2 separate regions of the Homo sapiens genome follow, and region 2 is linked to region 1. Evidence: fine-mapped expression QTL. Tissue or cell type: whole blood. Region 1 holds a variant in brackets; the other region holds the start of a gene. All regions are shown on one strand. Distances are between the middles of the regions.

Region 1 (8,102 bases):
AGAGGCATCCCCCGCGAAGTGCTCCTTCTCTCTCGGCCTTGGGCTGCACCTGAGAGTTCCCCATTCTCCCTCCTCCACCTGAAGCCTGGGCTGTTCACTTCTGGCTGTGAACACATGTGACTCAGGGCCCCCATGCCATGCCTATCCCCTGAGTTATCATGGCTCCCCTTTCCCTCAAGGGTGCCCTCCCCTCCTGAGGCCCCATCACTGTGCCCAGGATGGGGCAGAAGTGACTCGTCCTGGTGGATGGGTTATTACAACTTACATACCAGCTTCCACTTTTCTGTAGTGAGTATGTGGGGGCTTGGCATCTATCTACCCCTTCTTCTGCCTCCCCCAGTTTAGTCAGGGGCAGCCATCAAACCCCTCCACCGCCCTCCACTCTGCATGCTGGGCTTAGCTACCACGGGCTCTCCAGGCCACATCCCACACCCTGGCCGCTGCCCAAGCCCACCGTCCACACCTTCCCACCCCTGCTTCACGCCTTCAGTGCTCACCATTACACCTGTCCCAGATTCAGAAGCTTCTGTGTGGGTCACTCAACTGGGTCCCCTCCCTCCTGCTGGCCACATTCTAGCCACAGTGGCCAGTGTTCTGCCTCAGGACCTTTGCACATGCTGTTCCTTTTAACTGGAAAGCTCTTAGCCTCATCTTCACAAGGCCACCCTATGCTCGCCCTTCGCTTAAATGTCACGTCCTCAAAGAGGCCTTTTCTGGATGCTTCAATCATATTTGGCTTCCCCAGCAAAGTGGGGTTTTCCTTCATAGATGGGTGTTACTTTGTGGCTGTCCATGAACTCATGTGATTATTCACCCACTGTTGGTCTCAACAACCAGACTGCAGACACCACCGGGGCAGGGAGGGTAAGAGCAAAAATCCCCCTTACTCTGGTCACAGTGGCCACCTCCAAGGCAAAGTGAAACAAAGCCTGAAGGAAGACAGCGAGAGAGGGATGTACCCAGGAGACGCAGACAGAAGGTGAGCAGGGGTGTGGGCTTCCCAGCAGACCTGGCCCAGGCCGGTGAGAAGGGCCATCAGTGGGGCTGATGGGGATGCTCCACCCAGGACAGCTGGCACTGCGCCACAGCGTACAGACAGCCCGCAGCTGCCAGGAACGCAAGACACGTGGGAGACTTAAACACACCTCCCAAGGCTAGGTAGATAAACAGTAGCATAAAGTGATTATGAAAAATAATGTTAATAAACCGATGCAGTGACTGTCTGATAAAGGTTCTATTCTACAGAGACTCAGCCGGCTTTTCAAAGGCCCCTGGGTCTGTGTTAGGCGGCAAAAAGAGACTCATCAAATCCCCAGAGTATAAATCATAAGTCAATATTCTCAGGCTACAATACTGAAAACTAAAAATTAGTTTTAAAAAAAGGATAAATTTAAAAAAATGGAATTCCTAGAAATGAAAGATCATTTATATAATTTCGAAGTCACAGGAGAATTTAAAAATTCAATTACAAAATATTAAGAGAACAAGATCGGCAATACTATATGTACAAATGAATGGAATGGGGCAAAAGTGAATTCTGAGAAAAATTAATAGTTATAAATTATTTTATTAAACAAAAATAAATGAAAATAAACAAAATAAGTATCCAAAGCAAGATATTTTTTAAAAAGAACAAAATAAATCTCTCCAAATGGCACATAATTTGTCCATCAATAATTATTAGAAGCAATATAGGCCAGGTGCGGTGGCTCACGCCTGTAATACCACCACTTTGGGAGGCCGAGGTGGGCAGATCACTTGAGCTCAGGAGTTCAAGACCAGCCGGGGCAGCATGGCGAAACCCCATCTCTGCTGAAAATATCAAAATTAGCCAGGCATGGTGGCACACACCTGTAGTCCCAGTTAACTTGAGTGGCTGAGGCACGAGAATGCCGTGAACCCAGGAGGCAGAGGTTGCAGTGAGTCGAGATCGTGCCACTGCACTCCAGCCTGGGCGACAGAGCCAGACACTGTCCTAAACAAACAAACAAATAAACAAAAAACAAAAAACAGAAAAGAAAAAGAAGAAGTATAAGAGATTAATACGTAAAAAAGGTTTGTTAAAAATTGGAAAATCCTCAGTGAATTGGGATACTTTTTGGTTAAATTATAAACTATCAAATATCGACTTAAAAAGGAGGAATTCCAAGAAGAAAAATGGCAAATGTTATTAAAGAATTGCTGTTTCAAAAGGCACTAGATCCCAGGCAGTTCTTTCAAATTCTTTTTTTTTCTTTTTAATTGAGACAGGTTCTCACTATGTTGCTCAGGCTGGTCTCAAACTCCTGGGCTCAAGCGATCCTCCCACCTCGGCCTTCCAAAGTGCTGGGATTACAGGTGTGGGAGGCGTGAGCCACTGCAAATTCTTAAAGTGAAAGAAAAAGATGTGCAGCTTCCCAGTTCATTTAAAAAAGTTAACAAACCCTGATCCCAAGCCTCTTGAGATGGCATGACATGCGTCTCAACGCATGCGCACACGGACGGAACAGATGCCCTTCGCTTCCACCTATAAATAGACACTCAAGTCCCCTACCCAATGCTAACAAACTTCATCTAGCCACATAGCATATTTTATTTAAAGGAGGGCTAATTTCAGGAATGCTTTAAACCTGTTACTACAAAATCACACTTTAATACACCATGGGAAAAAAATGTACCGTCATTTTAATACGCATTGAGAAGGCATTTGAGAAAACTCAATATTCTTTTCTGATTTTAAAAAAGCCACAACCTTGAAAACACAGAAAGAAGCTATTTTCTTCATGTGATAAAAATCTCTCTCTCGGCCAGGTGCAGTGGCTCACGCCTGTAATCTCAGCACTTTGGGAGGCCGAGGCGGGCGGGTCACCTGAGGTCAGGAGTTCGCGACCAGCCTGGGCAACACGGTGAAACCCCATCTCTACTAAAATACAAAAAATTAGCTGGGTGTGGCAGCGTGTGCCTGTAGTCCCAGCTACTCAGGAGGCTGAGGCAGGAGAATTGCTTGAACCCGGGAGGCGGAGGTTGCAGCGAGCGGAGATCATGCCACTGCACTCCAGCATGGGTGACAGAGTGTGACCCAGTCTCAAAGAAAAAAAAAAAATCACTGTCTCAAACCAATAGCATGCACCCCATTTAGGACTGGAACACAGTGGCATTTTCGTGGCAGCCAGCAACAGGCTTATTTCGCATTTAGGCAGCCAGGGCTGGCTTCTCCCTTGTGGTTTCTGCCTTTGGTGTCAGGGCTCACACCCAGGATTCTGTGAATAGCGGGACCTTTCCAAAGCAGGGAGGGGCTGGCCACTTACTGCGCCACTTCCTCTGTTGACAGAGAGCCACGCTGTGGCCTGGCCTGGCGTGCGTCAGG[T/C]GTGGAGCAAGCACAGGGCCAGCTTGTCTTTAAGAGGCCTCAGCCCGGGCCCTGGGGATGTGAAAGCCCACGCAGTGTAGCTTCCCACCTACGTCTGCGTGTGTGAGCTCGGGAGCCTGGCTTCCTGTCTCACTTCTGCCCAGCACTGCTGGAGGCAGCAGAGAACTGGGCACCTTTTGTTTTTCTTGACACTGGGGAAATGTATAAGGAAGTCTTGTTAACTGTTTGATGAAAAGCACTTCAGCACACTGTGCTGGCCTGGGAAATGTGTGCTGGGCCAGCAGGCTCTGAGCCAGCTGTGCACACCTGGAACTCCTACGGGTGAGTGGCTGCTCCCATCCCCCTGGGACTGGCAGCACGCGTGAGGGAAAGACGGATATTGTACTATCAAACCCTTCCTAAATCAGGCTGGTCAGAGAGTACAATCAAACTAGGGAAAAGGCCAAGCATTAGAAGTCCTATGTACCTGTGCCAGCCCAGGGATGCCTACACATTTGACCTACTGCATTGCTGAGACAGGAATGCTTTGAAATAAGTGTCATCACTGCATGCAAATGAATATGTTAAACAGGAATTTTCCCCAGGCTCTGACTATGGTTTATCTATTTAAGTTGTATTAACAGGGACTTCTGACATCTTAGCAAAGCCATTTTCCCAACAGCATAAGGGGAAATGCCAACTCCATCCCTTTCCAAAGAATTACAGCATCTGGCCAGGCACAGTGGTTCCCGCCTGCAATCCCAGCACTGTGGGAGGCTGAGGAGGGTGGATCACCTGAGGTCAGGAGTTTGAGACCAGCCTGGCCAACATGGTGAAACCCAGTCTCTACTAAAAATACAAAAATTAGCTGGGCGTGGTGGTGCACGCCTGTGGTCCCATCTACTCAGGAGGCTGAGGCAGGAGAATGGCTTGAACTCGGGAGGTGGAGGTTGCAGTGAGCTGAGGTTGCACCACTGCACTCCAGCCTGGGAGAAAGAGCGAGACCCCATCTCAAAAAACAAACAAACAAACAAAAAACAAAACCCCCCCCCAAAAAACCAAAACAAACAAAAAAAGAAGAATGACAGCATCCACGAGAGCATGTGTTTCTGAGGTTTCCACTAAGACACGTGGATCTGTAAACAAGAAGCCTCACCATAGGCTTCTTGCAAATACTTCGCCAAATCATGGAAGCCAATTCCATTCCACACCTTTGTTACCAGCTAAATATTGCACTTTACCACTGACTAGGTGCTTGCTGAACAAGGAGGACAAAGGCCTCTCTCTTGCAGGAAAAGGAACAACATGAATAACGCACCAAAGAAAGAATCTTGGGAGGGTTCAAGGAAACAGGAGGAAGACAGATGAAACGGGGCTCAGTGTTCTCGCTGCTGTGGAGGAGGCCACAATTCCTCCTGCAACACTCGCAGTGACTGTAGAGCATGCTGATGAAGCCGGAGAAAATGGCCAGCCCTCTCTGCACGTTGAGCAGGGAAGGCAGACACGGGACCACCTGTGGCCTTATTCTCACCTCCCCTCGCTCATGGCCTGTCTGGGCCTCAGGCTCTGTCCTGTCCCATGTCATCTGCTCTTTCAGTCTCCCTCTTTCCTGGCCTGAAGTGAAGCTGGTTCTCCCATTCCTGGGATGGAGGCTGAGGCCCAGGCGGGGCCCGTGGTTGCATGCGGGGCTCTGGGGTCCACCTGGACGGATGCACACCTCATGATAGCTGAGTGCCACACGGGAGCATCCGGTGAGCTGCAGGCATGTAAAAGAGGGACCCACTGAGGCTGGGGCAGGTGACCCCACCATCCCCACGGACAGCACATCACACCCCCAGGACATTTAAAGGCCTGGCCCCTCTGCTGTCCAAAAGTCTAAGAGGCTGGGTGCAGTGGCTCACGCCTGCAACCCCAGCACTTTGAGAGGCCAAAACAGGAGGATCGCTTGAGCCCAGGAGTTCCAGACCAGTCTGGGCAACACAGAGAGACTCCCCCATCTCTACACAAAGTTTAAAAGTTAGCCAGGAGTGGTGGTGTGTGCCTATAGTCCTGGCTACTTGGGAGGCTGAGTCAAGAGGGTTGCTTGAGTCCAGGAAGTCAAGTCTGCAGTGAGCTAAGATCATGCAACTGCATTCCAATCTAGGCGGCAGAGTGAGACCCTGCCTTAAAACAAAACAAAACAAAGTCTAAGAAAATACTAAGACCTGTTTCCCCGCGTGAGTGTGCTTCTCACATCACCCGAGGGCAGGTGTTCTTACCCCCTCCTTACAGAAAAGGGCGCTTGCTGAGGTGATGGGGAGGTCCCTGAGGCGGCAGTGCAGACTGGGGAACGGTCCAGGGGTCTGCCTGGGGGCTGCTTGGCCCTCCCTGGGCCTGGCTTCCTCTGCCTCCCTCCCCTTCTCCTGCTATGGTGGCCCCAGGCCGGGGAGGAATCTGGGCGCCTCTGCCCATGCTGGGAGAAGCGAGAGGTTTCTAAATCCATCCCTGGCTCCATGTGCAGCCAGGTCTGGCACCAGACACAGCCTGGGAGCTGCCAAGTCAGGCTCCCCACAGAGCAGCCACAGCAGGCGGGCGGACGGGCATAATACCTCCTCTGAGAACAGGCCTGGGCAGCGCCCTGGCTCCTGGGGCTGCCAAATGAAGTGCAGTTTTAAAATGCAGTGGGTGTCCCAGGCAAAGTCACAGACTGTCCTATGCTGGCTGCATCTGGGCCTGAGCAGGGGTTGCATTGCGTCCCAGGGTCCGAGGATCAGGGAATGCTGGGAGATCGCTGAGCTGTGCCCATTGTGGGCCGGGTGCTGAGGGCTCACTACAACCCCTGGGAGGTGTCCTGGCACCCCTGTGGGGACACCCAGGTCTAGCTGCCCAGCTGTGTGTGATGGGGCTGAGACCACACTCAGGCCTGTCCAGGCCCCAGGGTTCCCACCTCACGGGGACATGGGTGTGACATGTGTCCGAGTCTCAGGATTAAGCATGACAGCCGGCAAGCTATATTTGGATGCTAACACCCTGGGGGCATTGTCCTTGTGAAGCAACGCTGGCCTGGAGGCTGGACGGGCTCTGCCTTCCTATCCACCCCTGGTCTCAGCCCCAGCCAGCCGGCCCAAAGCATACTCACCCTCTCTGTACAAGAAACTCTCCCCCGATGCCACTAGACTCTTCAGGGACCCCTGCCGGGCTTCACGAGCCTTCAGCGACCCATCCTGCCCACCCACGGGGCGCCCTGCACCATGCTGGTCCCTGTTCGGGCATCCCACCAACTGGCCGCCTCCATCGGGGTAGCAGCCTTGCCACCCCTGCCCTCCTGCCACAATCTCACCTCGTTTGGAGCTCAGGGCAACACTGAGTGTGGGGAAAGGCCAGGCCAGGAAACATCCCAACGTGGGGTGTTCACTGTGGGGGTTTTGAGGAGTTGGCAGTTACGGAGCCTCGGTGTTTTCACCTTTAAAATGGGTTCAGTGATCCCTGGCTCACAGCAGCAGCGTGGTGAGAACTCCCTCAGAGGGCCACCACCATGCCATTCTCTGATGGGAGCCCATGACCCCCCCACAGGACCCCTTTGCACAGCAGGGGGTGGGCATGTGACTCGCGCTGCCCTGCCTTTGGATGGGAGCCCCACACAGGCAGGCAACACGTGGCCTCCTGTCTCGCTCCTGACTCGCTCTACAATCGCCACCATAGGGCTGACCTCAAGGGAGGGTGAGGGGCTCCAGAGGCCATGGTGCTGGGGGGCCGTGGCTCCAGGAGGGAGGGGGAGGTCCTGCCCTGCTGGGCCCTTGGTGGCTGGCACCATTGGCTAGGTGCCTGCTAAGTGCTCAGCAAATGGCTGCTGAGCTGAATCAGGTATCTGGATTCTGAAGGGTACCCTGCTACCAAGGTGCCTTCACCTAACTTGTCGAAGGAGAACCACAACCAGATAGGAGTAGGAACAGGCCACTCCTGTTCCCCAGGGCTGGCAACGCTTTGTCTCACCTCCTATGAACACGTGTCCCTTTGTTCCGTCTTTGAACGTGTTTGTGCACCACGGGGAGCCACATTCACCCGAGCAAGGGAGAAGGTTCCAGCCGTCCAGGGGCCTCTCCACAGTTCAAAAGCCACCTGGACAGCCTGGGCCTTGGAACTGCCACAGTGCACCAGGAGGATGAAGGTGCCAATAAATAAGTGTGGTGGGGACCCATAGAGCCTCAGCCCCGCCTGGCTTCTGGGATGGAGGGGTGGCAGGGGGGTCTCACCCCCTAGCCAGGTCCATCTGGGGCGGGGGATTCAGGCGCTGGTGCTGCCTGTCAGCAACATTCCCTGGTGGTCCTGGCTGCCCCAGGTCTGAGGACGTATGGCCTGCGGCTGCCCAAAGGGCCCTTCCACAGCCAGCCTCGCCCTGGCCTAGCTCCCACCCCAGCACTGCCCCCGGCTCCTCCTGCCTCCTTCCCACAATGGCAGAAATCTGGCCTCCCTGTAAAGAGGTGAGTTAATGTGTCCATTAGGCTTGGGGATAAAGGAAACTTTAATTCACTGCAGTATAATTAGTTTCAATTACAATATCCTAATTAAAAACTACTTTAGGCCGGGTGAAGTGGCTCACGCCTGTAATCCCAAGACTTTGGAGGGCCAAGGTGGGCTGATCACTTGAGGTCAGGAGTTCAAGACCAGCCTGGGCAACATGGCGAAATCCTGTCTCTACTAAAAATACACAAAATTAGCTGGGCATCATGGCATGCACCTGTAGTCCCAGCTTCTAGGGAGGCTGAGGCACAAGAATCACGTGAACTTGGGAGGCGGA
Region 2 (8,102 bases), 70 kb before region 1:
CGCTAGACTCTGCCTTCTGTTTCTAACATAAACTGACATTAATCGTCCTCCTTGCCATGGTCAGAGAGGGTCACTGGAACTTCTTTTGACTGAGGACAAATATTTGTCACCAGGGCCAGGTGCCGTGGCTCATGCCTGTAATCCCAACACTTTAGGGGAACGAGACAGGTGGATTATGAGGCCAGGAGACCGAGACCACCCTGGCCAACATGGTGAAACCCCGTCTCTACTAAAATACAAAAAAATTAGCCGGGCGTGGTGGCCCACACCTGTAGTCCCAGCTACTTGGGAGGCTGAGGCAGGAGAATCACTTGAAGCCGGGAGGCAGAGGTTGCAGTGAGCTAAGATTGCACCACTGCACTCCAGCCTGGCAACAGAGTGAGACTCAAAAAAATAAAATAAAATAAAACAAAATAAATTGTCACCAGTTCAATATTTCCATAATTTCCTTTGTTGCTTTCGTATCATTTTATTTCAATACCACTCTGATCGTTTCAACAGAAAATGATCTAAAAATTCCATGTGAAAAGCTTGACCTAAGCACAGAAATTTTAGGTTGAGGCTAAGATCCTGAAAGTCAAATAAGAATACTCCGTTCCTCATTGGCATTTGAAACCATTTTTCACCCAGGTCTCTTACACAGTTTCTCACACCATCTTCTGCATATCCCCTAAATGCTGTCAGATTTTATTTTCTATTGTTTGTACCATGAAAACAGTACAGGCCAGGCATGGTGGCTCATGCCTATAATCCCAGCACTTCGGTAGGCCGAGGCAGGTGGGTCACCTGAGGTCAGGAGTTCTAGACCAGCCTGCCCAACATGGCAAAACCCCATCTCCACTAAAAATACCAAAAAAAATTAGCTCGGCATGGTGGCGGGTGCCTGTAAATCCCAGCTACTCAGGAGGCTGAGGCAGAAGAATAGGTTGAACCCGGGAGGTGGAGGTTGCAGTGATTGTGCCATTGCACTCCAGCCTGGGCAACAAGAGTGAAACCGCATCTCAAAAGATAAAAAAATTTAAAGAATTTTTTCAAAACGAAAACAATACATAGAATACGATCTTCTGAACTGCACAGTCTTTTCCACTAGAGGACACGGACATACACATACCCTAAACCCCTTAAGAAGCACTGGTCTAAAGGTTTCAAAGACAGCTCTGCACTTTCACGGTCATAAGCTCTCAGAATTGCAAAGTTGGAATGGACTTCTCTCACTCCCATTCCATTTTAACATGTGGACCCCAGGACAACAGAGGCCCAGAAGGTAGGCTGCCCAAAGCCACTCAGCTGCTAGAAGCTGTCACCACAGACACACTAGTTTCCCTCTTGTGGATGACAAAAATGTTTTTTGTTTGTTTTTTGAGACAGGTCTTGCTCTGTAGCCCAGGCTGGAGTGCAGTGGCGTGACTTGAGCTCAGTGCAGGCTCAAACTCCCAGGTTCAAGAGATCCTCCCACCTCAGCACCCTCCACCTCCTAAAGCAGCTAGGACTACAGGCAGGCACCATCATGTCCAGCTAATTTTAATTTTTTTTGTAGAGACAGGGTTTCACCATGTTACCCGGGCTGGTCTTGAATTCCTGAGCGGAAGCAATCCACCTGCCTCAGCCTCCCAAAGTGCTGGGACTACAGACGTGAGCCACCATGCCGGGCAGGAAATGTTTTTATCTCGAGTGTGGTCATGGTTTCAGACTGATCAATTACACAATTTAAATATGGGCAATTTAGTGTATTTCAATTACGCCTCAATAAAGTTGACAAAAATGTGAAAATAAACCAACATTAGTTTCTTCATTGTTACGCTACTGTGCCATCTCCTCAGGTGGCCCTCCATAAGAGCACATCTTCACAGCTTCGCCCAGAGCAAAGCAGCTGGGTTCAGCTGATGAAGTTACTTCACAGGCAAATAGTCACAAACACCTGTAGGGGCTTTAGCTACCACAGACAGCAGCACCATCTAGAGCCAAGCTCTCCTGCTTCAGCCCCTACCTGGAATGATCTTGTCAAAAATCCCTCACAAGGATTCCTTGTCATGGAACAGTGTCTCCCTTCCCAGCCAAGTCTGCTGCCCCGTGTGCAGACTCGAGCACATCAGTCCTGCCACATCGTCAGAGTCACCCAATAATGGACCAAGACGTGCATCCATCCATCACCTGGGGGTCAGCTGGACGCACCAGATGCCCTACACAAGGACTACCAGGTCTCTGGCTGACCTTGGGAATGCAAATGAAGCAAAGAGTGAAAAATAAAAGCACAACTGCTTGAACATGAGTTCAGCAGGCAGTAACCTAGGAAAGTCAGAATGAAGAGTCCCACAGAACAGCAAGCACCAGGGCCACATGCAGCTCCCTGAAGGAGGCTCAGGGAAGCCTGGGGAGAGAGATCCTTCATGCACTCAAAGGCCAACCACCAAGAAACTCTTCTGCACCACTACAGCCCGCAGGCTACGCTTAACGCTTTTATACCCCCAATCACGCCACGATGAAGTCTTCTCTGTGGGCAGAAGACGCTCCAACATTCAATTCCACTGAAGAGTCAGATTGCTGGTTTACTATCTTCAAGTCTGTGACTTGCAAGATATAAAAGAATGTAACACTGGTGCTTTGTTTTCCATAGAAAGTAATAAAAAATGTACTTCTCTAACATTCTAAGAAATCTAATATAGTGACCATCTATTTTTCTATCGTGTGTATCATTTTCACACGCCACTTTAAGAATAAACCCAAGGCCTAATTTGGGAATGTTGCCATAGCTGTAAAATTAAATTTAAACCAAAGGATTCTATCAAAAAGTAAGTCTTCAAACTGTCAAGAGGCTAGCTGAATACCTGCAGTTGCTTCAGAATTCTTTTCCTTCTTCAATATGCTTCAACTCTTGAAGATCTGGTTTAAAACAAAACTTCCTCTTTCCTGCAAATTACGCTCTAAGGCAGCATTTCGGTAACAGATCAGCTGTTCTGAACAGCATTCTCAGTTTCTAAATTCCACAAGTTGTAATTGGCCCAGTTAGGTTCCTCCTCTGGGTGGGACCTGCTTTCAGACAGCCCGGAGAAGAGCATCTGGTGTGCAACTTACTAGTGCCATCAAGTGATATTTACTCAGCATCCCTGCAAGCAATGGCAAAACCAGGCCATGTCACTTGTGCAGGGACACCAGGGGCCAGTCAGCTCAAGGTGAGGGGGCTACTTATTTACAATTCCTTCCGAATGGAGACGTCTCAATCCAAGCATAAAGGATGGGACTGCGGGTCACTAGGGGACACTCAACTTCCCCAGCCAAAGGGGCCCCGATCAGGGCACAACAAAGTCCACATCCCACTCTTCTACAGAATGCCAGTGCCCAGGAACCTCCTGCTCGGCACAGGAGTACGCTGGTTGACCGACCATCTTTGGAGCCCAGCCCCTTTTACGTTCAGCAGTAAACCTGCCCCTTCCTGCACTGCCTACTACCTGAAAGGCAGGTATGTCCAGGTGGGGGGTCCTCAAGCCCCACAGCACTAAGCTTGGTGTGATTCTGTCTCTCAATCTCTCTCTCTCTCCCACCTCTATGCTCCCCCTTGCCTTCATCTCACTCCTCAGCCAGGATTCCTCTGCACCAGGCAGGCCAGTTTCCTCTTTGTTCCTTCACAACACCCTGTTCATTTCCAGAAGCTTCTATTCAGTCTGATACCCAGGTCTAGAATGCCCTCCTTCCCTTCACAAACGAATCCTACCCCTTCCTTAAGGGGAAGATTCCTACCTACATCCCAACATCTCCTCCTCCAAGAAGCTTTCTCTGGCTATTCCAACCCATCCTGCCCCCACTTCCAGGCGGTCGGGAATGCAGAGTGGGGGGACCCAATTCTCTCCTGTGACAGATGAGGAAACTGAGCCCAGGGAGGGGAAGGCCACACCCAAGATGACACACCAGCAGAACTAGGTCTGGAACCAAGACTCTGCTGCACTAATTGTTCCAAGATGCCCTTCCTTCCTCGTCTCCTTTGCTGTGGTAAAAATTTTCCAAACTAGCCTGGCCGCCCCCAGTTGTAGGTAAGCGTCCATACTTACTCTTCCCGCTGCAGGTACGAGGACCGGGCGCGAGTTGTCACTCCCCTCACCTCCCCCGCTCCTCACGGCCTAGCGCGACTCCTGCCCCGATCGGGAGTCCAGTCCCGGTTTCTGCGGCCACGTCGGGCCGGTGACCTTGGCCAGGCGCTGGACGCCCCGCTTCCTCCGTACAAGGCAGGCAGCCGATCCCGCGAGTGGGGCGTGAGCGCGGCCAGGTCTGTGCCACGCTCGGCCCAGGGCCTGGTTCACACCAGGTGCTCGGCGCGGGCCGTCCCCCGCCGCCGCCGCCGCGGTCACTCACTGCCGGGCGAGGCCAGCGCCCCGGCCGCCGACGCCGCCTCCGACCCCCGGCTCGCGGCCCGCGGCCCGCGGCCCCTTCCCATTCACGCCGCTCGGCCTCGCGTCCGGGTGCCCGCGCCCGCCAGGCCCCCGGCGTGAGGAACCCGGCGGGCCCGAGGCGGCCCCGCCACCGCCCGCGCCCTCCGCCCGGCCCGCAGGCCAGCCCGTGCACCGGCGGCCGCACCTCGCCCCGCCGCAGAGCCGCACGGTCGCTCCTCACCTGGGCTCCCCGAGACAGGCGAGGCGGGCCCGGCGCCCAACACCATGCCCGGTCCGGGCGGCTGCTGCGAGACGCGGCCCCTCACAGCCGCACCGGCTCCCGGCGGCGGGACCGGAAGTGGCGGGGCGGGGACTCGGCCGCTCTCGCCCGCGGCAGCCGAGACAGCAGCGGGCGCTTTAAAAAAAAAATTCAAAGTCGCGAAAAACTTTATTTGGAACCAGACACGCGAACAGCGGCGTGCGCCGATCGGGACTGGGCTGGGCGACGGGCCTCTCGGACCTCGCTCATTGGCAGAGGGCGCGGCCAGGGGGCGGGCACGGATTTCGCAACCGCCGCTGATTGGCGAGTAGCGTTAGGGGCGGGGATTCCGAGTTGGCTCTGGAGCCCGAGCGCCGGAGGGCTGGGGGTTTTGCACCTGGTTCCAACACGGGTTCACTTCGTGGTCTGCAGGGTTTAGGGGCACGGAGGAGCCCGGGCTATCCTTCCCTGAAGGAGCGGCCTCCGTGGCTGGAGCTCCCGCTGTCCAGCGCCGCACCTGGAGTGCAAAGGACTGGACAGGCCCCCGCAGCCTGCAGTGCAGGCGGTGAGGGAGACCGGGCGGTCAGACACGCAAGCCACGACCAACCCCAAACCGTGTGCTGCGCCCACAGGCCCCACTGTTCTTGTCATGTCCCTTTTATTCCTTCTTTTCTCTCTTAAATGTGTTTAAAGTACCTTAAAAATCCATTTCAACTTGTCCTCTTTTGGGCGCCCAGATTCATCCCGCGCCCATTAGCGTCCTGTGTGATTGACGAGGGGCCGTCCTGGGCGTCAGGCAGGCCCCTGGAGGAGTGGGCCATTAGAAAGATGAGGTTCAGCATGGAAACGGTCAGAAAGAGACAAGGAGTTAGACTTTCATTTCGAAAAACCCCACTGAGAGGTTTCTAACAGTGGAGTGACTATCAGGTTTTCTTCCTAAAGGAGGCTGGCGGGCCCGGTGGCTCACGCCTGTAATCCTAGCACTTTGGGAGGCCAAAGTGGGAGGATCCCATGAGCCCAAGAGTTTAAGACCAGCCTCCTGATGGTGGCAAGACCCCATCGCTACAAAAAAAGAAAAAAAAAATTAGCCGCGTGGTGGCGCGCGCCTGTAGTCCCAGCTACTCAGGAGGCTGGGATGGGAGGATCACCTGAGCCCAGGAGGTTGAGGCTGCAGTGAGCCGTGATCGCACCACTGCACTCCAGCTTGGGTGACAGGGCAGACCCTGTCCCCATAATAATAATAAAGGCTTTGGCTCTAAGTGAGTCGGTGGGAATGGAGTCAGGAAAACTGGTCAAGAACACAACTCAGCCGGGCGCAGTGGCTCAGGCCTGTAATCCCAGCACTTTGGGAGGCCGAGGCAGACAGATCACCTGAGGTCAGGAGTTCAAGACCAGCCTGGCCAACATGGCAAAACCCCATCTCTACTAAAAATACAAAAAAGCCGGGCGTGGTGGTGCGCCCTTGTAATCCCAGCTATTTGGAACGCTGAGGCAGGAGAATTGCTTGAACCCAGGAGGCGGAGGTTGCAGTGAGCTGACACTGCACTCCAGTCTGGGTGACACAGCAAGACTGTTTCCAGAAAAAAAAGAAAAAAGAAAGAACACAACTTGTGTTATTTCTTGTGTTTGGGACCATGTCTCTCCCTTTTTTGCCCGGCTAACTCTCAAGTTTTCCTAAGCTAAGACACCAACTTCTGATAGGCCTCAAAGCCTGGGGGTGGGGTGGGGCAGTGCAGGTGCCCTCTGTGTCTTCCTTGGAGCCCTGCACTTCCCTCTTCCTTATTGTCATGGCCTGTTTCCCTGACTAAGCTCAGCTCCTCAGCCCTCCTCTTCCTTCTTCCTCCAGCGTCACCTCCTGCCACCCCCTTTCCCATCCTGGAACATGCAGGTGATTAAAACACATCTGCTGGATAGAGATTGCATGCGCTGGCGGCATGAGTCCTGGTGAGAGGAGATAAGGGCTTGAAGATTGCAGTGTGTGAAGGTGCAGCCGGAATGGCGTGAGCACTTGTCTTACTCATAAGCGTCACTGTCTGCAGAATGGATTGCACCACACATTGGCCCACGTAGGCCCAAATTCCACCGCTGTGGATGAATGAAGTCATTTCTAGCTCCATTTCATGAGGCTGCCTAATTCTTTCACTAAGACTTATTTAGGACTTCCTAGTTTATTAACTCAATTAATCCAAACAATAACCCCATGAAACAGGTATTATCCCCATTTTATAGATGAGGAAACTGACACAGAAGTTAAGTAGTCTGTTGGCAAAAAAGGTCAAACTGTAAAATATTTGAAGAGATTTTATTCAGAGCCAAATATGAGTGACGAAGGCCTGAGTCACAGCCTCAAGAGGTCCTGAGAACATGTGCCAAGGTGGTTGGATTACAGCTCGATTTTTATAAATTTTAGGGGTGTCAGAGGCGTTTGAACCAGAGCAACTCCATCTTGAGGCTAAGACCTACTGGGCTACATTCCCAGGAGGTTAGGCATTCTAAGTCACAGGATGACATAGAAGGTTGGCACAGGTACAGGTCACAAAGAGCTTGCCGTTAAAAGGATGCCATTAAGAAGCCGGCCAAAACCAAGATAGCGACGAAAGTGTTCTCTGTTCATCCTCACTGTTCATTACGCACTAGTTATAATGTATCTGTTGCTAAAAGACACTCTCACCAGTGCCATGACAGTTTACAAATGTCATGGCAAAGACAGCAAGTTATCCTATGTGATCTAAAAATGGGAGGACCCCTCAGTTCCAGGAATTGCCCAGCCTTTTCCTGGAAAACTCACGAATAATCAACCCCTTGTTTAGCATATAATCAGGAAATGACCATAAAAGTGGCCAACCAGCAGCCCTTGGGGCTGCTCTGCCTACGTAGTAGCCATTCTTTTATTTCCTTACTTCTCTAATATACTTGCTTCACTTTACTCTAATGGATTCCTCTTGAATTCTTTCTTGTTTGAGATCCAATAACCCTCTCTTGGGGTCTGGATCAGGACCCCTTTTTGGTAACAGGGGGACAGAAGTTACAGGCAGACACCAATCAATACATGTACATTAGTTCAGTCTGGAAAGGCAGGATAACTGGAAGCAGGGAAGGGTAGGCAGGAGCTTCTGGATCATAGGTAGATTCAAAGATTTTCTGATTGGCAATTTGGTTGAAATAGTTATTGTCTAACGAACTGGAATGAATAGAAAGGAGTGTCTGGGATAAGATAAGGTGTTGTATAGACAAATGTTCTTATGTAGATGAAGCCTCCTGGTAGCAGGCTTCAGAGAAATAGATGGTAAGTATTTCTTATCAGACCTAAAAAGATGCCAGACTCTTGGTTAATCTCTCCTGGATCAGAAAAAGATCTGGAAAGGGAAATCTACAGAACGTAGATTTTCCCCACAAGAGACAGCTTTGCAAGGCCATTTCAAAATATGTCAAAGAAGGCTGGGCACGGTGGCTCATGCCTGTAATCTCAGCACTTTGGGATC

What was found. PIP is the estimated chance that this variant, and not a neighbour inherited with it, causes the effect.
Region 2: it holds the start of UBE2F, and the variant in region 1 is fine-mapped to the expression of UBE2F in whole blood (TOPMed, PIP 0.96).

What each region holds. Positions count from the first base shown.
Region 1 is chr2:237,894,053-237,902,154 of GRCh38, reverse strand. All of the region lies in intron 2 of RAMP1 (receptor activity modifying protein 1), which reads right to left. Among named protein-coding and RNA genes, the nearest start is that of RAMP1, 38 kb to the right of the region's middle. RefSeq lists enhancers at 2,993-3,102, 3,183-3,232, 6,284-7,162, 3,200-7,429. The variant T/C (reference allele first, on the strand shown) is at 3,347.
Region 2 is chr2:237,963,633-237,971,734 of GRCh38, reverse strand. UBE2F (ubiquitin conjugating enzyme E2 F (putative)) reads right to left here and starts at 4,721. Exons shown (of 10, transcript NM_080678.3): 1 at 4,603-4,721. UBE2F-SCLY (UBE2F-SCLY readthrough (NMD candidate)) reads right to left here and starts at 4,790. Exons shown (of 19, transcript NR_037904.1): 1 at 4,603-4,790. RefSeq lists a silencer at 4,498-4,677 and cis regulatory regions at 6,194-6,857, 7,184-7,587.